Linked DNA regions of Homo sapiens: region 2 is linked to region 1. Evidence: fine-mapped expression QTL. Tissue or cell type: whole blood. Region 1 holds a variant in brackets; the other region holds the start of a gene. All regions are shown on one strand. Distances are from middle to middle.

Region 1 (8,102 bases):
TGAAATGGGACTGGCAACACAGGCCCACATAGTCCATCATGAAGCCAGATGTCAAAGCACTTGGATTTCTCAGGCCCGTACCCTTTTTTTTTTTTTTTAGATGGAGTCTCACTTTGTTGTCCAGGCTGGAGTGCAGTGGCGAGATCTCCACTCACTGCAACCTCCGCCTCCCAGGCTCAAGCAATACTTGTACCTCAGCCTCCTGAGTATCTGGGACTACAGGCGCACGCCACCAACCCGGCTAATTTTTTATATTTTTTGTAGAGGTGGGGTTTCACCATGTTTGCCAGGTTGGTCTCCAACTCCTGACCTCAAGCAATCCACCCACCTTAGCCTCCCAAAGTGCTGGGATTACAGGCGTGAGCCACAGTGCCCAGCCAGGCCTGCTCCCATTTTAAATCCACCCTTGTCCCTCCCATCTCTATCAGATTTGTACAACATTGCCAAGCTGATAATTCCTAAAGAGACGTCATTTAAGTTTCCGTACCCTTGGTTCTTAGTTGAACCTGAGAACTTTTTCCTGTTTACTGGCCATGAGTGGTTCCTTCTTTTGCCAATTACTTGTGTATTTCTTTGGCTTATCCTTCCCTGGAGCTGTTTATTGCTTCCTTATTAATTTGCAAGTGTTCTTCCTGCATTAAGGGCATTAACCCTTTGTCTCCCATCTTTTCTGTAGTTTGCTGTTTCTTTTTCCTTTATAGCATATGTTCATCTGTTTTTTAATTAATTCATTCATATTTATTGAATAACTTCTGTGTGGCAGGCACTGTTTGGGGCCCTGGGGACACAGCAGTGAACTAAACAGACAGTCCTTGCTCTCTTGGAGCTCACATTCTAGTGGGAGACAAACACGAAACAGAATAAATTAATTGTAGAATATGGTAGAAAGTAGTAACTGCTACAGAGGAAAAATATAGGAGAGAAAGGATGTAGGGAGTGATGAGAAGAAAAGGCCTCATGGAGAAGGTAATACCTTCTTGAGCAAAGGTGGAAGGAGGTTAAAAAGCAAGGTATGGTCCAGGCACTGTGGCTCACACCTGTAATCCCAGCACTTTGGGAGGCTAAGGTGGGAGGATCACTTGAGCCCAGGAATTTGAGACCAGCCTGGACAACATAGTGAGACTCCACCTTTACAAAATTTTTTTAAATTAGCTGGGTGCGGTGGTGCGTGCCTGTAGTCCCAGCTACACAGGAGGCTGAGGTGGGAGGATCCCTTGAGCCCAGGTTGCAGTGAGCCAAGATCGAGCCACTGCACTCCAGCCTGGGTGGCAGAGCAAAACCCTGTATCAAGAAAAAAAAAAAAAAGCAAAAGAACTGGGGGAAGAGCATTCCAACATGCCAGACAGCAGAACAGCATGTGCAAAGGCCCTGAGGCAGAGTGGGTCTGGGGTGCCTGAGAAGGCCAGTGTGGTTGGAGAGGCTCAGGGCAATCGGTGGGAAAGAAGTAAGAGAGGAAAAGGCGCCAGGTCACACAGGGTCTGGAAGGTTGCGGTTAGGACTTTGGCTTTTGCTCTGCATGAGAAGGGAACCAGCAGGGCTGTGTGTTGGGAGAGACGGGTGGGACTGTTTTAACAGGTTCACTCTGAATGCTGAGCATAGACCGCAGTGGGGCTGAAGCAGGAGGCCAAGGGCAAAGGGACTTTGTTGTGGTGGGTGTGTTTTAGGGTTTTCCTTCCTTTTTTTTCCTTTTTTCTTTAAATTTCTTGCAGTGATTTTATGCTTTTATTTTTAAAAAATCCACATTTTCTTTCTCCAGATCTTCCATAAGTATTACATTTCAGGGGTTTGAAAATGTTAAAGTACTGACAGGTACACTGTGAAGTCAAGGACCCCACCAGGCCCCTGGCTGCCCACCCTCCCCCACTTTTCTGCCCCGCTAGCCACTGGTGTGCAGTGACTGTCACCCCGCCTCACCGCTGCTGCAAGGTCAAACCAAACACTCCCCCCACCCTGCCCCCCACCTGAAGCACTTCCTGCCCTGCTCCCTGGGAGACCAAACCACACACACTCCTGTCTGCACGTGGCTGCCCCGGGCCGTGGGAACAGCCGGTCCTGCCCTCCCCTCCCCTACCTGACCGGTCCTCCCTGCCCCCAACCATCTCCTCCCGTTCCTTCCCCCGCAGAGAGCTGGGCAGGCTGGAGGACCGGGAGGGTTGAAGAGTGACCCCCGCAGCCCCCATACCTCTAGATAAATCTGAGCCTCCAATACCACTCACACCTCAAAATGTCTCCCGAGGGGACTTTTACATCCTTTAATCTCTAGAACATGGAAGTAAGGGGTCTAGAAGACAGAAGTAAGGGGTCCCATTTCACAGAGGGGACACTGAAGCCCAGAGAAGCTCAGAGGTTTGTCTAGGCAGACGGAGGTGCTGGGGTAAGGAAAGGGGAAGTGAGGACCCCAGACAGCAGCTGAGGAGGAGTCCATGGGCACCTGGTCCCCCGGGCTTGCAGCGATGTCCTTCAAGTCTCTGCAGTGGGGGTGGCGGCAGGGACTTGGCCCCAGGCTGTGTTCCCCAGGACTGTGGGGGGAGGAGGGGGAGAAGGCAGCTATGAGGCAGAGACAGCCCTGAAAGTGGGGAAAGGTGACAGGCTCACACCCCTAGAAAGGAGAAAGGGAGAGGGTGGGGGGTCCCTAAAGCACTGTTCAACTTCCTTCTCCCCATAAAGTGACATCCTCACTTCTGCCCCCTCCTCACCCACTTGGCCCCAAATGACTGAGTCCTGAGGCTCCTGGGGCTCTTTGGGGTCTGCTGGGTAAGTGTGAGGTATCCTGAAGGGGGCCAAGGCCAATGGGGGACCTGGAAACTAGCATCAGAGAAAGTAACAAGTCTAGGCCTGCTGGGGGTGGGAGGGGAGAGATAAGGAGACCAGACTTTGGAGGAGGGAGGGGACTTGGCTGCCCTAAAGGGAGGGTCAGTTGTCAGTGTTTCGGGATCCTGGACCCCTCTAGGGGACAGAGAGAGGTGGCCAAAGCAGGCCAATGGATCCAGTTAGACAGCCCTGATCTACCCTGCCCAGGCCTGAGCCAGCTCCAGGATCCAGGTCAAAGACTTCAGCCCACCTGTAGAGCACAGAGGGCTCTCTAGGCTGGCTCAACTCCAGATGGCTCCACAGACCAACCTGGCAGGGTCAGCCCTGGCCCCTGACTCGGAAACTCCAGGACCCAGTGCCAGCTGCACCACCAACCAGCTGGGTGACCTTAGTGAAGTCATTTCCCTTCTCTGGGCTTCAGTCCCATCATCTGCAAAATAAATGACAAATAGAGTTCATCTCATGTGCCATCTCTGCTCCAGGGCAGTGACTTCCTGGAGCACTGTGTTGAGGAGGATTCTGAAGTTGCATCTTGGCTTAGCGGTAAGGCATGCCGAAATTGATTAGTAATGCCTGCTGTGGGTGCTAGGAGGACAGTAGTGGTATGCACTCATATATTTGACATTCCTGCTCTAACTTTGTCTGGCAGAAGAGGCGG[C/T]GTGGACCAGATCATACAGGGCCTGGTCATGCTTAAAGAGGGATAACATTAGGAGATATATCTAATGTAAATGATGAGTTAATGGGCGCAGCACACCAGCATGGCACATGTATACATATTTAACAAACCTGCACGTTGTGCACATGTACCCTAGAACTTAAAGTATAATTTTAAAAAAAGACTATAATGTCAGGTCGTGATTAGTGCTATGAAAAAAGAATTCAGTAAGGTAAGGACAAAGATGGGCTTTTTAAAAATAAAGTGGTTGCGGCCAGGCACAGTGGCTTATGCCTGTAAACCCAGCACTTTGGGAGGTCGAGGAGGGAGGACTACTTGAGCCCAGGAGGTCAGGTCCAGACCAGCCTGGGCAACACAGCGAGGCCCTGTCTCCTCAAAAGTTTTGTTGTTGTTGTTGTTGTTGTTGTTTAAGCTGGGTGTGGTGGTGTGTGCCAGTAGTCCCAGCTACTCAAGAGGCTGAGGTGGGAAGATCGCTTGAGCCCAGGAGTTCAAGACTGCAGTAAGCAATGGTTAAGCCACTGCACTCTAGCCAGGACAACAGAGCAAGATCTTGTCTATAAATAAATAACTAAATAAAGTGGTCGGGAAGGTGTCTCAGATAAGCTGACATTTGAGCAGAGACCTGTGCTAAGTGAGGGAGTGTGCCATGAGGATATCTGGGAAGAGCACCTTGGGAAAGGGTCAGCAAGTGCAAAGGCCCTGGGGTGGGAGTGTGCCTGGCATGCTTGAGAAAGAGCAGAGAGACCAGGGTGGCTGGAGTGGAGTGGGAGAGGGGTGAACACATAGGAAATGAGGTTCAGAGGGTAGATGGGGGCCAGATCAGGAGGCCAGGTGTTAACTGTGAGCAAAGTGGGAGCTGCAGGAGGAGTGAGAGCAGAGGACAGATGGGATCTGATTTGGGACTGGGAAAGGCAGAGAGGCTTGCATGGCAGTGGGGCCCATGCCTGCCTTCTGGTCAGAGTAGATTTCGGGGAGGGCCTGAGGGACTCCTCAGGTCCTGTGCCAGCCTGGGCCCCCAAGAAGGCAGAGCTAGGGGTGAAGGCTGGCTCCCCTTCCGGGAGGCCCGCAGGCAGCGGTCGCTTGTCCAGGCAGGAGGATGTTCTCACTGACTCGGAGGAAACAGCGTGTCCCACATCAAAAGGGGGCCGGGTGGCTCCCACGCTCAGGGTTCGTGGGAACTCTGCTACCCTGGGTTCTCGCAGGAGGCCTGCAGTTAGAGAGAAGCTGGAGACTACCTCGGGACTGTCCCCCAGGCTCACTGATGGGTAAATAAATAACAGTCCCACAGTGACACCCCACTCACAGTGCTCTTCCCAGGAGCAAGACTGACTTTTGTAATCTAGGGCTATGTGGTATTTAAGGGGCTCCAGAAATTTTAGGGCAGCTGAGATCTAAATCCTTCCCTTCCTGGAGTACCCTCTGTCTAACTCCTAGACCAAACACTCAGCAAGAGCAGGGTTACCCACTGGGCCAGACTGGGCATTATATAGACCTGGGGTAGCAAACTGGCTATACTGATTGATAGAGGCTGCTTGGAGAGCTGTACTGAGGACTCTGCTAAGCTTGAGAGAGTGCTGTGATGGATTAGTGATGTCTGCCACAGGCAGGAGACCAACCAGTGGTGGTATGCATGCTCAATATTTTTCTTTCCACCCAATTTATAGGTAGTCCTGGAGAAAAAAAGAGATACTTTCTTCTTGTGAGGCAGAAAGGAAGAAAGAGGGGTGAGGCAGACCTAGACTTAACCAGGTTGTCTGCACTAGAGGTGCTTGAAGAATGGGCAGGAAAGAGGAAAAGCTTGAGGGAAATGCCTCTATGCATTCCTATAAAAGTATAGAGAGGGAGGAAGTTAGAGTGGTGACAGCTGCCCCCCTGAGGAAGGCCCTGGAGGATTATGACAGACCCTGAGAAGGGTCAAATGAATACTCAGTGCCCCTCTTCCTGGGGCCCCCCCGCAGGGTGCCCGACAAGAAAATCAAGACACCTCCACTCTCATCCCTGCGCCAAATGATGAGCTTTACATGTTTTAGCACATTTAACTTTCACAGGACTCTATCCCCATTACAGGTGGGGAAACTGAGGCACAGTGCTTTCTTCCCACCTCCACTGACCAGGTCCTGGGGGACCCAGGGTACCCGCCATCCCATCCTGCCTCCCTCGGGAGCTGTGTTCATTGACTTCCATCACACCGGCGCCTCCTCAAGGGGCTCAATCCAGATGTCTGCTCCAGACCTCTCCACAGCCCTCAGAGGGGTCTGGGATGGGAGTCCTGGCCACGTGATACTATCCTGTATAGCCGAGCAGCCACCAAGTGGGTGTGTGTGCGCTGCACCTGTGTGCATGTGTGATTGTGCCTCTGCATGTGTGCAGGTGTGGGCCTCCCAGGCTGAGTGTCTGTGTGTCAGTGTCAGGAGGTGTGGGTCAGAGCATGTGCGCATGTGTCCTCGTGTGCAGTGAGTCAGCGTGTCCTCCTGCGCCCCCATGCATGATGTGAATCAGTACGCACGAGTACTTCCCCACAGGCGGTGCGGAATCGTGTGTCCGCGTGTGGACGGCAGGCCGTTCTGCAGGCTGCAGCGCGCCGGGGGCTTGTAGGGCTGAGCGCATGCTCCTCTGGGTTTGCTGCCCACCTTACCCAGCTCTGTGCAGCTGGGGAGAGGGGCGGCAGTAGCAGGTGCGGTACTGGTCTACATGAGCCACCGACTCTTGTCCAATGGAGTATCCTCCCAGGGGAGAGCTGTGTGTGCTTCTGTGTGTATGTGTGTGTCCCCGTGTGTGCACAAGTCTCTGTATGTAGGTGTGGGGAGGCATTCCCTGGAATATGTGAGTGTGTGTGTATCTTAATCCATGTATGTTTGTGGGGGGCGTGCCCTGAAGTGTGCCTGTGTGTATCCATGTATATGTTCATGGTGTGCATTCCCTAGTGTGTGCGGTATGTTCCCCAAGTAGACGGATGGGGAGGGAGGCTCCCTGGTATCTGTGTGTCTGTGTGTGCATGTATCTGTGATGTACTCCCTGGGTTGTGTGTGTTTGTGTGTCTGTGTACTTAAACATGTGTGTGTAATGTGTCCCGGGGAGTATGATAAGTCTGTGTGGTCTTCTCCATGCATGTGTGTATATTTGGATCTGTGGATCTGTGTGGATGGTGTGTGCCCTGGGTGTGTATGTCTGTGTGTCTGCACCCACTGCAGCAGTACCCAAGCCTGCCAAGGGCACCATTTGCTTGAAGATGCTTTCTGGTGCCAACTGTGCCTGCCAAGGACAGGTGACCAGACAGCATTAGACAGGCTGTGACCTGAACAGGCACGGCCAGAGCCAAGGGGGCTGCTGCAGCTCCTTCTCCAGCTGTCACTGCTCCCAGCCCTTCCTGCCCCCTCTCCTGGCACATCCCCCAAGGCCTTCAGGCTGACCCCTGGATTTCAGAACACCCCTCTTCATCAGAACGTATCCAGCCTGGGTTCCATGCCCATCAACAGCAAGACACCAGTTCCCCTGCATAAACAGGTGCTGAAGTCAGGAGGACTCAGGCAGACACACTGTACACATCACCGCAAGCTCTCCTTCAGTCCTCCCAACGACTATAAGTGAGGTGTTAATATGCCTGTTTTACAGATAAGGTAACTGAGGATCAAGAAGTTAAGTGACTTGTTCAAGGTTGTCACTGCAGCAGTTTTGTGGTTTCCTCTCTAAGATGGAGAGAAGTTACACCAGGACTTAGTGCCTGGGAAGCAAAGAGGTGAAATTACTCGGCCAGGATTGCACAGCTGACAGTGATGATACCGATGGCTGTGCTTTTAGTAGCTGTTAGGTACCAGGAACTGTGCTTGGCCCTTGACACATATAATTTCACGGAATCCTCACAGCAGATTAAAAAAAAAAAAAGGTACCATATTGTCCCCATTTTACAGACCACCCCTTACAAGAGATGAGATGATGTGCTGTGTGTCGCCCAGCTCATTAGTGGTTGAACTGAGATATGAAAGCAGCTCTGGCTGACTCCAAAAGCCAAAGCTCTTTTGAGGGCCAGAGGAAGAGGAGAGTCAGGATACCTTTTCCTAGGGGCTCTTCATTTGAAGAGAGGATAGTACCTTGTCACAGAAACTGACATCAGTAAATATTCCAGAAGAGAAAAAAAATTCATCACCAAATGCTTTTGAAAACCTGGACTTATCATTGTTAATGATATGTTCTTACGCAGGGCTTGTCAGAGCCTTTAATATGCTCAGATATGTTGTGAATTTCAGAGAGGGAGACAGTGACGTGTTCCTAACTTACTTGATTCCTGAATCCTTCTTTCCTGGAACGTTTTATGGAAATTAATAATGCTACATCTAACAAGCTTTGAGAGATGTTAAAATAGCTACACCACTAGTAGTTGGGTTTCAGGCACAGCGGCCAACGAAAGGAGCCCTCAGAGCCAAAGCGCCCTCTCGAGGGAGGAGCCGGCTGTAGGGTAAGGAGGTGTCTGCACTAAAGTCTAAGGGTGCATCCCATTGGAACCTGGGCGGAGGTCCTGGCCACCCCCGCCCCATAATAGGATGTCAGAGTAGAAAGAGAGTTTCCTGGAGGTAACTGCAGTTGGCAGAGAGGTACAAAGAGGCCAGGGTGTGTGGCC
Region 2 (8,102 bases), 33 kb before region 1:
TCTTCAGTGCCTAGAATGGTATCTGGCACATAGCAGGTGCTCAGTAAACATCATCTGATTAGATGAATAAATGGATGGCTCTAAATGGGCCCTAAAAGCTCGCAATATCACATATGATTAGCCCAACTACCTAGAGACAGGTTGACAACCATCTCTCAGTTTTAATCCCTTAAATCCAGGGAAAGAACCATTGGCCAAAGCCTACAAATACCTGGACCCCCCAGCCAACTACATCAGTTTCTGAGGGTGGGGCTTGGACATGGGTAATTTGTATGCACTCTGCAGGAGATTCTCACATGAATCCAGGGTGGGACCCAGTGCTCTGGGGTGGGGAGGGCGTTCATCTCACCATCTCGCCCATAGATGCTCAAGCTGCTTTCAACTCCGGCTGTATGTGAATTTCAGAGCAAGACCCTGGGATGAATCTGTGCTCACCTGGAACCAGCCTCTGCCTGGTGATGGGGAGACACTGCTCCCAGGAACCATGACCTGCACACATGGCCACGAGAGCAGTGCCCACCTTAACCTTGGGCCTGCAGACCCTCCTCGCTAAGCAAAGCCGGCTGTGGATGTCACCCTTCTGAGGCTTCTCCAATTCTACTGCCCATTCTCAGCAGGCAGCAAAAGACCTTTCACCACTCGCACCCCACCAGTGTCCTACAGGCCCAAGGAACACTCTGACTTCCAGGGGCCCCATTTCAGTCCCCAGAGACACCCAAACAGTCCTTCTCACTCTGTTTCCTGTTTTCCACTTAAACTTTTTCTCAACTGCTGAAGGGGAGGTCACAGCTGGTCTGCACAGAAGAATGTAGAGGGCTGGAGAGAAGGGCTCAAAAAAGCCTAACTCACTCGGCTCCACAGGCTGGGGACAGGGGTGGCATGTGTCTCCCAGGGCTCATACCCTAATGCACATGCCCCTAATACGGTCTTCAGTGTTACTCATCTTGTTTTGTGTCCCCTTCCAGACTCTCCTGTACCTAGACCAGGGCTGGACATACAGTAGGTACTCAATAAAGTCTAGTTAATTCCAGGCTCTTTCCAACACAAATCAAATCACATCAAATTTTTAGTAATTCCCATGACTCTTAGAATAAAATTGCAAACCCACACTGGGTCTTATAAGGCCCTGCATGGTAGCTCTGCCTCTTCTGGCCCCAGGCTCACCCCTCTTCTTTCTCAGTGGTTACTTGGTCTCCTTTCTGTTGCTTTAACACACCAAGCGCTTTCCCACCTCTGGGCCTTTGCACATCCCTGTTTCCTCTGATTTAATCATTCCCCCTCCTACCCCACTCAGCCACATTAAGACCTATGAATCCTTCAGGGAGTGGCTGAAACATCAACTCCTCTGAAAAGCCCTCCCTGATTCCTTAGACCTGATAAGACCCCTGTTAGATGTCCTCACGATATCCTGTACTTTTCCCTCATAGTCTTTGCAAAAGTTTGGAATTAGACTTTGTGTGATTCTTGATTCATGTCCGACTTCCTCACTAGACTCTGAGACCCAGGAGGGCAGGGACCATGCTGCTGGTGTCAGCTCTCTATCTCAGCACGTAGCCCAGTGCCTGGCACATAGGAGGGCATCTGGTATTTTTTGGATGAATGGATGGATGGATGGATGGATGAATAAGTGGATAAGAGGAAGGAAGGGGCCGGGTGCGGTGACTCATGCCTGTAATCCCAGCACTTCGGGAGGCCAAGGCAGGTGGATCATGAGGTCAGGAGATCAAGACCATCCTGGCCAACATGGTGAAACCCCATCTCTACTAAAAATATAAAAATTAGCTGGGCGTGGTGGCACGTGCCTCTAATTGCAGCTACTTGGGAGGCTGAGGCAGGAGAATCACTTGAACCAGGGAGTCAGAGGTTTCAGTGAGCTGAGATTGCGCCACTGTGCTCCAGCCTGGTGACAGAGCAAGATTCCATCTTAAAAAAATAAAAATAAAAAGAGGAAGGAAGGAAGGAAGGGAGAGATGGAGGAAGGGAAGCAAGGAAGGTGGGAAATTTCATACATGAATGTATAGATGAATGGATGAATAAATGGATAGATGGATTGATGGATGGATGATGGGTGGGTGGGTGTATGGATGAATGGATGATGGATGAGTGGGTGGATGGGTGAATGACTGGATGGATGGGTGGGTGGGTGGGTGGGTGGGTGGATGGATGGGTGGAATGGATGGATGGAGGATGGGTGGATAGATGAATGGATAGACGGGTGGATGGATAAGTGGATGGTGGATGGCAGAACAAAAAAAATGAGTTGGTCTCTTTCTGCCATCTTTCTGAGCTGCTATAATGGTGCATGTGAACGTCCTGGCCAGTGTTCTCAATAGCATCAACATGCTGAGAAGAGAAGCAAATACCAGGTTGTTTTAGGTTGTGTTCCAAAATCATCATCTAGTTTCTAAGTGTGATGATGAAGTTTAGTTTACATCAGTGAATTTGCAATCATCAATAATCACAGAGCTAGAAAAATCACTGTGGACCTCACAGGCAGGTTAAACAAGTGTACAGTGACAAGCCCCAGTTTGATGTGCAACTCAAAGATCTAGAAAAATGGTACCCCTATCCCCTTTGGTTTCATTGTCCTGACAACCTCAGCTGGTATCAGGGATTGCAAGGAAGCAAGACAAAAATACACAGGAGGGAAAATCCTGGGATTGTTTTTCTAGGGATGTAATAAATTCATATGAATAAAATGCCTCAATGGACCAAAAAAAAAAAAACAGTTCATGATTGATTGCTTTTGCTTTTGTCCTATTGACTTCCCCATTGGTATCTGAGCCATCCCTCCCATGAATTGTGGGCTCCTTGGTGGCCAAATTCCTTCCCTCTCCTTGGAATTCTTTTCTCCCCAAGTTCCCTGGGAGCAGAGTGTTGCATTCCCAGATGTTCCAAACCCAGTTGAGAGGGGCCATTAAGGGCCACTCTGCACCAGATCCTCAGCTGGGTGCCATCCAGTAGTCACTCAACAAACACAGAGGCAGCATGGTGCTATGGGAGGTGCAAAAGCATTTGGGACTCAGACCCTAGCTCTGCCACTTACTCCTTGTGGGAACTTGGGTAAGCTACTTAGCCTTTCTGAGCTTCAGGAGGTTTTTTGTTTCCTTGTGTAAAATGAGGACAACATTACCTTCCTTGTGGGGCAGTTATGAAGAGTAGTAAGTATTATTTAAGTGCCTGGCACATAATAGGCACTCAGTAAATGACACCCTTATGTAATGGGGCACCAGCCACACCACACCAAGATGAATATGATGGCTATCTCACTCTAGCAGGGACAGATTTCATTTAAGAGGCTAATTGTGATACAGGGTGTCATGTCAAGGTATGGGCAAAGGAACACAGAGGAAGATGGGGTGAATTCAGGAAAGGCTTCCTGGAGGAGGTGACATTTAATCAGACCTTAAATAGCATTCGACAGGAAGTCCAGAGACACGAGTTCTTCTTTCCAATTTGCTGCTAAATCACCATGCGACCTTGAGCCAATCTCTTCTCCACTGTGGGATCCCCAGATCCTTCTACAACATAAGCTGGTTGAGCACCTGCTCTGAATCCGTTCAGTCACAGTCTCCTGTGAGAAGAATCTGCTGACAGCCAGAGCCCTTCTTCCCAGACATACAAGACACACAATGCCTAGACACACAAGTTTGCCTGTAATGGGAGAGGGGGACTTCATGGACCCCAGAAGGCCATCCAGGGACCCTAGGCTAAAATCCCAGAACTCAGTGATCCTGTGGGAGTATCGTCAGACTTGGCCCTGCCCTATGCAAAGCCTCTCTCTTTAGTCTACAGCAGGTGAAAGCAAGCAGAATCATTGACCCAATCTGAAAAAGCCCATCCAACACTGGGCTGCAGGTCAGAGCAGGGGCCTGGGGAGGGGAGGTCCCTCCAGCTGGCCGGAGAGCCAGAGCTGGATTCTGGGAAAGCACCCCTGAGCAGCCTGCCCCTGACCCTGCCTAGTGTATCCCCATCTGCCCCGGGGAGGCAGGCGTGGGCTGCTCTGGGCAGGCGCCCAAACAGGCCACTGACCCCCGTCAGCCACCCAGGCTGGAGTTCCCGGACGCATCCTTCATCTTCCCCAATCTAAACACCCCCAGGCCCCAGGTGGTCCACCCCCCTCCCAGCCAATGTGTGTCTCAGCCGCATCCAGCTTGCTGGAGGACAGGGGGACTGGCCATCCCGTTAACACTTGAGCCGCTGCCATTTCCAGCCTTCCCTTCCATCCAACCAATGCTCACCCACCATTTATTGAGCACCAGTTGTTTGCAGGTGGCTGTGAATGACATGGCAGAGGGCCTGCCCTTCTCTTCCTCCAGGATCTCACCTCCTGGCCAGGGTCCCCTCCCCTGGTCCCACCCCTCTCACCTGGAGCAGGTGGGTGCTTTGGGGGAAGTGGGCTCAGGGCTGGGAACTGGGTACTGGCAGGAGATTCAGATCGGGGTTGGTGTCTGGGCATCGCTCTAAGCTTTTGTGATCCTGGGCCTGGCTCTTACTCTCTCTGGCTTCAGTCTCCTCATCTGTACTCTTCAGATTCCACGGTTCCAACTGAGTCTGAATCAGGCCTTGTCAGCACCCTCCCACCCCCAGGAATAGTTAGAGGAGGAAAGGAGGCTAGCTCTGAATGCTTCAAGATCTTTCTTTAGACAGTCTCTGGATCTTATTCATTCATTCAAGCATTTATTGAGCACCTATTCAGTGCCAGGCCCTGGACTGGGAGACTGGAAATAAAGATGACAAAGATTCAAGCCGGTGACTCCTAAACATCCCACTCCCTGCCTCACGCTCTGCTTGGGGTCAGAAGGCCCCTTGGGGTCTCGGGAGGGCCTGGCCGAGGATTTGGGGCGCCCCGAGACTCGCGTGTCAGCGCCGGTGGCGCTCAGGGCCGAGATCTGTCTCCTCCCCTTCCTCCTCCTCCGCCCCCTCCCCTCTCCCTCCCGGAGCACGGCCGAGGCCTCCTCCCACCCGCGAGATCCCGGCGGCCGCCAGCCGGCTCCTGCGTCCGTCCGTCGGCCGGGCAGTCTGTCCACGCGCGGAAAGCTCGGCGCGGCGGCCGAGGGGCCTGGGAGGGAACGGGCGCGGAGGCGGGACCGCGGCTCCCTCCCACTCCGGGGGGAGCCCAGGAGGCGGCGGTGCTGGAGCGCGAGCCGGAGCCGGAGCCGGAGACGAAGAGAGGCGGTGAGAACGCGGGTGCTTAGGGACCCCACCCCCGGCTCCCGCTGGGGGCCCGCGAGCGGCTCGGGGACGTCTGGGCTGGGGAAGCGGGGCTGTTACCCCCAGGGCGGGAGGCAGAGACGATCCAGCTCCTGGCTTCGCCCCCTCCGCGACGCGACCCCCGAGGGGCCCTGGGCCGCGCCTGCAGCGCCGCGCATCCCCGTGCTTCCCGGCGCACCCCAGCGCACCCGGCATCCCCCCGGCAGGGCGAGGGCCCCGGGGGAAGGGAAGGCTCCGGGAGCCAAGGAGGGCGCCCCCCAGGCGGAGAGTCTCGGAAAACCGCGCCCCCGGCCCCTGCCTTCCCTCCAGGCCTGCCCCAAGGGAAAGCGGGCGGGGCGACCCCGTACGCCCCCCTTGCTGTCCCCCTTCGGTTCCCCATTGTTCTCAGCCGAATGCTCTCCTGGGAAGGGGGGAGGGGGTGCTGCGCTCTCCTCTTAAAGGGCCCTCTCCCCTCTTGTCTCCTGGCAGGTCGCGAGCACGAGTGGGGTGGGGCGTGCCCACGGGCCCCCGCCCCCCTCGTCCCCCTCGTCCCCCAGCCCAGCTCCGGAGCCGCAGTCCAGGCGCGCCGCCCGAGGGTCCACGCCGCACCCCTCCCCCGTGCGTTCTGCGGCCACCCAGGCCTTCCAGGACACCGTGGAGAGGGAACAAGGGGGCAGGGACGCCCCCTTCGGCAGGAGCCGTCGGAGAAGGGGGCCCAGACCGGAGGGAGGCGAGAAGCCCCACTGAAGCCGGGCGCAGGGTCTGGGACGCAGTTGGGAGTGCAAAGGGCTGGCTGAGAGCCGCAGGAGCAGCAGGCTGTGGCCCAGGCCTCCTGGGTGACAGGCCCTGTCTGGCGGGGAAGAGGGACCAAGAGACAACACGGAAGAGGCTGGACCTCGAACAGGGGCGGCTGCCTCACTCCCTACCTGAGCCAGCCGAGGGGGCCAAGGACTTTAGAGCTGTTTCCTCCGGCATAAGAGAGACACTTGCTTTCCAGGGCAGCACCCTTTATCGGAGAAGGCTCTACAGGGAAGGGGTCTTTGCAGCCTGGATGGCCATCCCACATTCCTTTAACGGAGGTCTCTAGGCCTCAGAGAGAACCCAGAGTTAGAAAGGAGGCCAGACGGTCCTTGCTGTCCCCCTGGGGAGAGAGGAAGTTGCCGCCTGCTGCCAGGCCCAGGAGGAGCTGGGCCTGCAATAGTGGGGGACCTGGCCCCTGAGGCAGTGGCGGCCATGTCACGGCCAGGCCACGGTGGGCTGATGCCTGTGAATGGTCTGGGCTTCCCACCGCAGAACGTGGCCCGGGTGGTGGTGTGGGAGTGGCTGAATGAGCACAGCCGCTGGCGGCCCTACACGGCCACCGTGTGCCACCACATTGAGAACGTGCTGAAGGAGGACGCTCGCGGTTCCGTGGTCCTGGGGCAGGTGGACGCCCAGCTTGTGCCCTACATCATCGACCTGCAGTCCATGCACCAGTTTCGCCAGGACACAGGTGAGCAGACACCCACCCCATGCCACCCGCCCCGCCGAGCCATCACTACCTTGCAGCGTAGGATGCTGAAAATCCCAGTAAATCTGCTGATGCCAAATCCCTTCCCCATCTCCCTGCCTCACCTCCAGAAAAACAGGGCAGTCTAACCTTGTCCAGTTTAAGACTTGGATTCCAATGCAGCCTCTGAGCAAGCTGTAGGGCCTTGAGCAAGTTGCATCATCTCTCTGAGCCTCAGTTTCCTCATCTGCAAAATGGGTAGATCAATATCTCTCACAGCTGAGTGAGGATTAAATAAAATTGTGCTCACTGAGCACAGAACCTAGAACAGCAGTAGCATGGGATTGTAGAATAAGGGCTTTACATGCACTTCCTCATTTGATTTTTCCCAAGAATCACAGGCAGTAAGTCTGTGTATTGTTGTATTATTATGAGTCCCATTTTATAGATGAAGAAACCGAGTCTCCCAGAAGCTGAGTGATTTAAACTCAGAGCTGGGATTTAAACCCAGGCGGTTGAGTTCCAGAACCAAAGTTCTTAACTGGTATCCTATACTGGCTCCAAGTGTTGGTTTGTGGGGTGGAGTCGTGCTGGTGGTAATTAATTGGGGATGGGGGGCGTTGGTGGTGTTGATGGTGGGGTGAGGTGGCAATGATGGAGGAGACAGTGTTAGCGGTTGTGTTGGTGGTGACTCAGTGATAGTATTGATGGTGGTGGGGTCTTGGTGACAATGGAGGGATGGATGATGGTGACGTGGCAGTGTTGGTGGTGATGTCAGTGATAGCGTTAACCATGGGATTCAGTGGTGTTGGTGACATTGATAGTTGTGTTGGTGGTGGTGCTGGAAGTGGTGTGATGGGGTGGTGATGATGGAGAAAATGAGAGAATGATGTTGGTGGCAGTCTTCGTGGCCATGTGGTGTGGCTGGTAGCCCTGTGTGTGGCTGTTACTTAGTGGTATTGGTGATCCTGTTGTGGTTGTAATGATGGTGATGTTGATGGTTGCGTTGGTGGTAATGTGATGGCTGATGATGGAGATAAAATCGATGAGGTCCCACTCTCAGGCCTACTCTCTTTTGTTCTGGAGATTTGTCATCGTTGGGGAGATCTCCCTGAGTCATTGCCCGGTGGTATCTGTGACAAGCTCCATGGGCAGTGGGGACTGGTGGGGTCCTGCCGTGCAGAAGCAGCCTAGAAATCCTTGGCATGTTTGACCCCCCAAGGACCAGCTGATGGGGTTTGGGGAAGTTCCTATGAATCCCTGGATGACAGAACCACACGTAATAACCCCAGGCTGGTAGGATGCTCGCTTTCCCTCTAGAGCTGTGCCAACCAATATGTTAGCCACCAACCACATGTGGCTACTTAAATTTACATTAATTAAAACTAAGTAAAATGTAAAATCCAGTTCTTCAGTCTCA

Evidence for each region. PIP is the estimated chance that this variant, and not a neighbour inherited with it, causes the effect.
Region 2: DTX1 starts here. The variant in region 1 is fine-mapped to the expression of DTX1 in whole blood (TOPMed, PIP above 0.99).

What each region holds. Positions count from the first base shown.
Region 1 is chr12:113,084,971-113,093,072 of GRCh38, forward strand. The region is part of intron 3 of DTX1 (deltex E3 ubiquitin ligase 1); the gene reads left to right. Among named protein-coding and RNA genes, the nearest start is that of DTX1, 32 kb to the left of the region's middle. RefSeq lists a silencer at 1,854-1,943. The variant C/T (reference allele first, on the strand shown) is at 3,470.
Region 2 is chr12:113,051,767-113,059,868 of GRCh38, forward strand. DTX1 (deltex E3 ubiquitin ligase 1) reads left to right here and starts at 4,964. Exons shown (of 10, transcript NM_004416.3): 1 at 4,964-5,178; 2 at 5,683-6,685. The coding sequence starts at 6,427. It also overlaps the pseudogene RPS15AP32. RefSeq lists an enhancer at 6,202-6,990.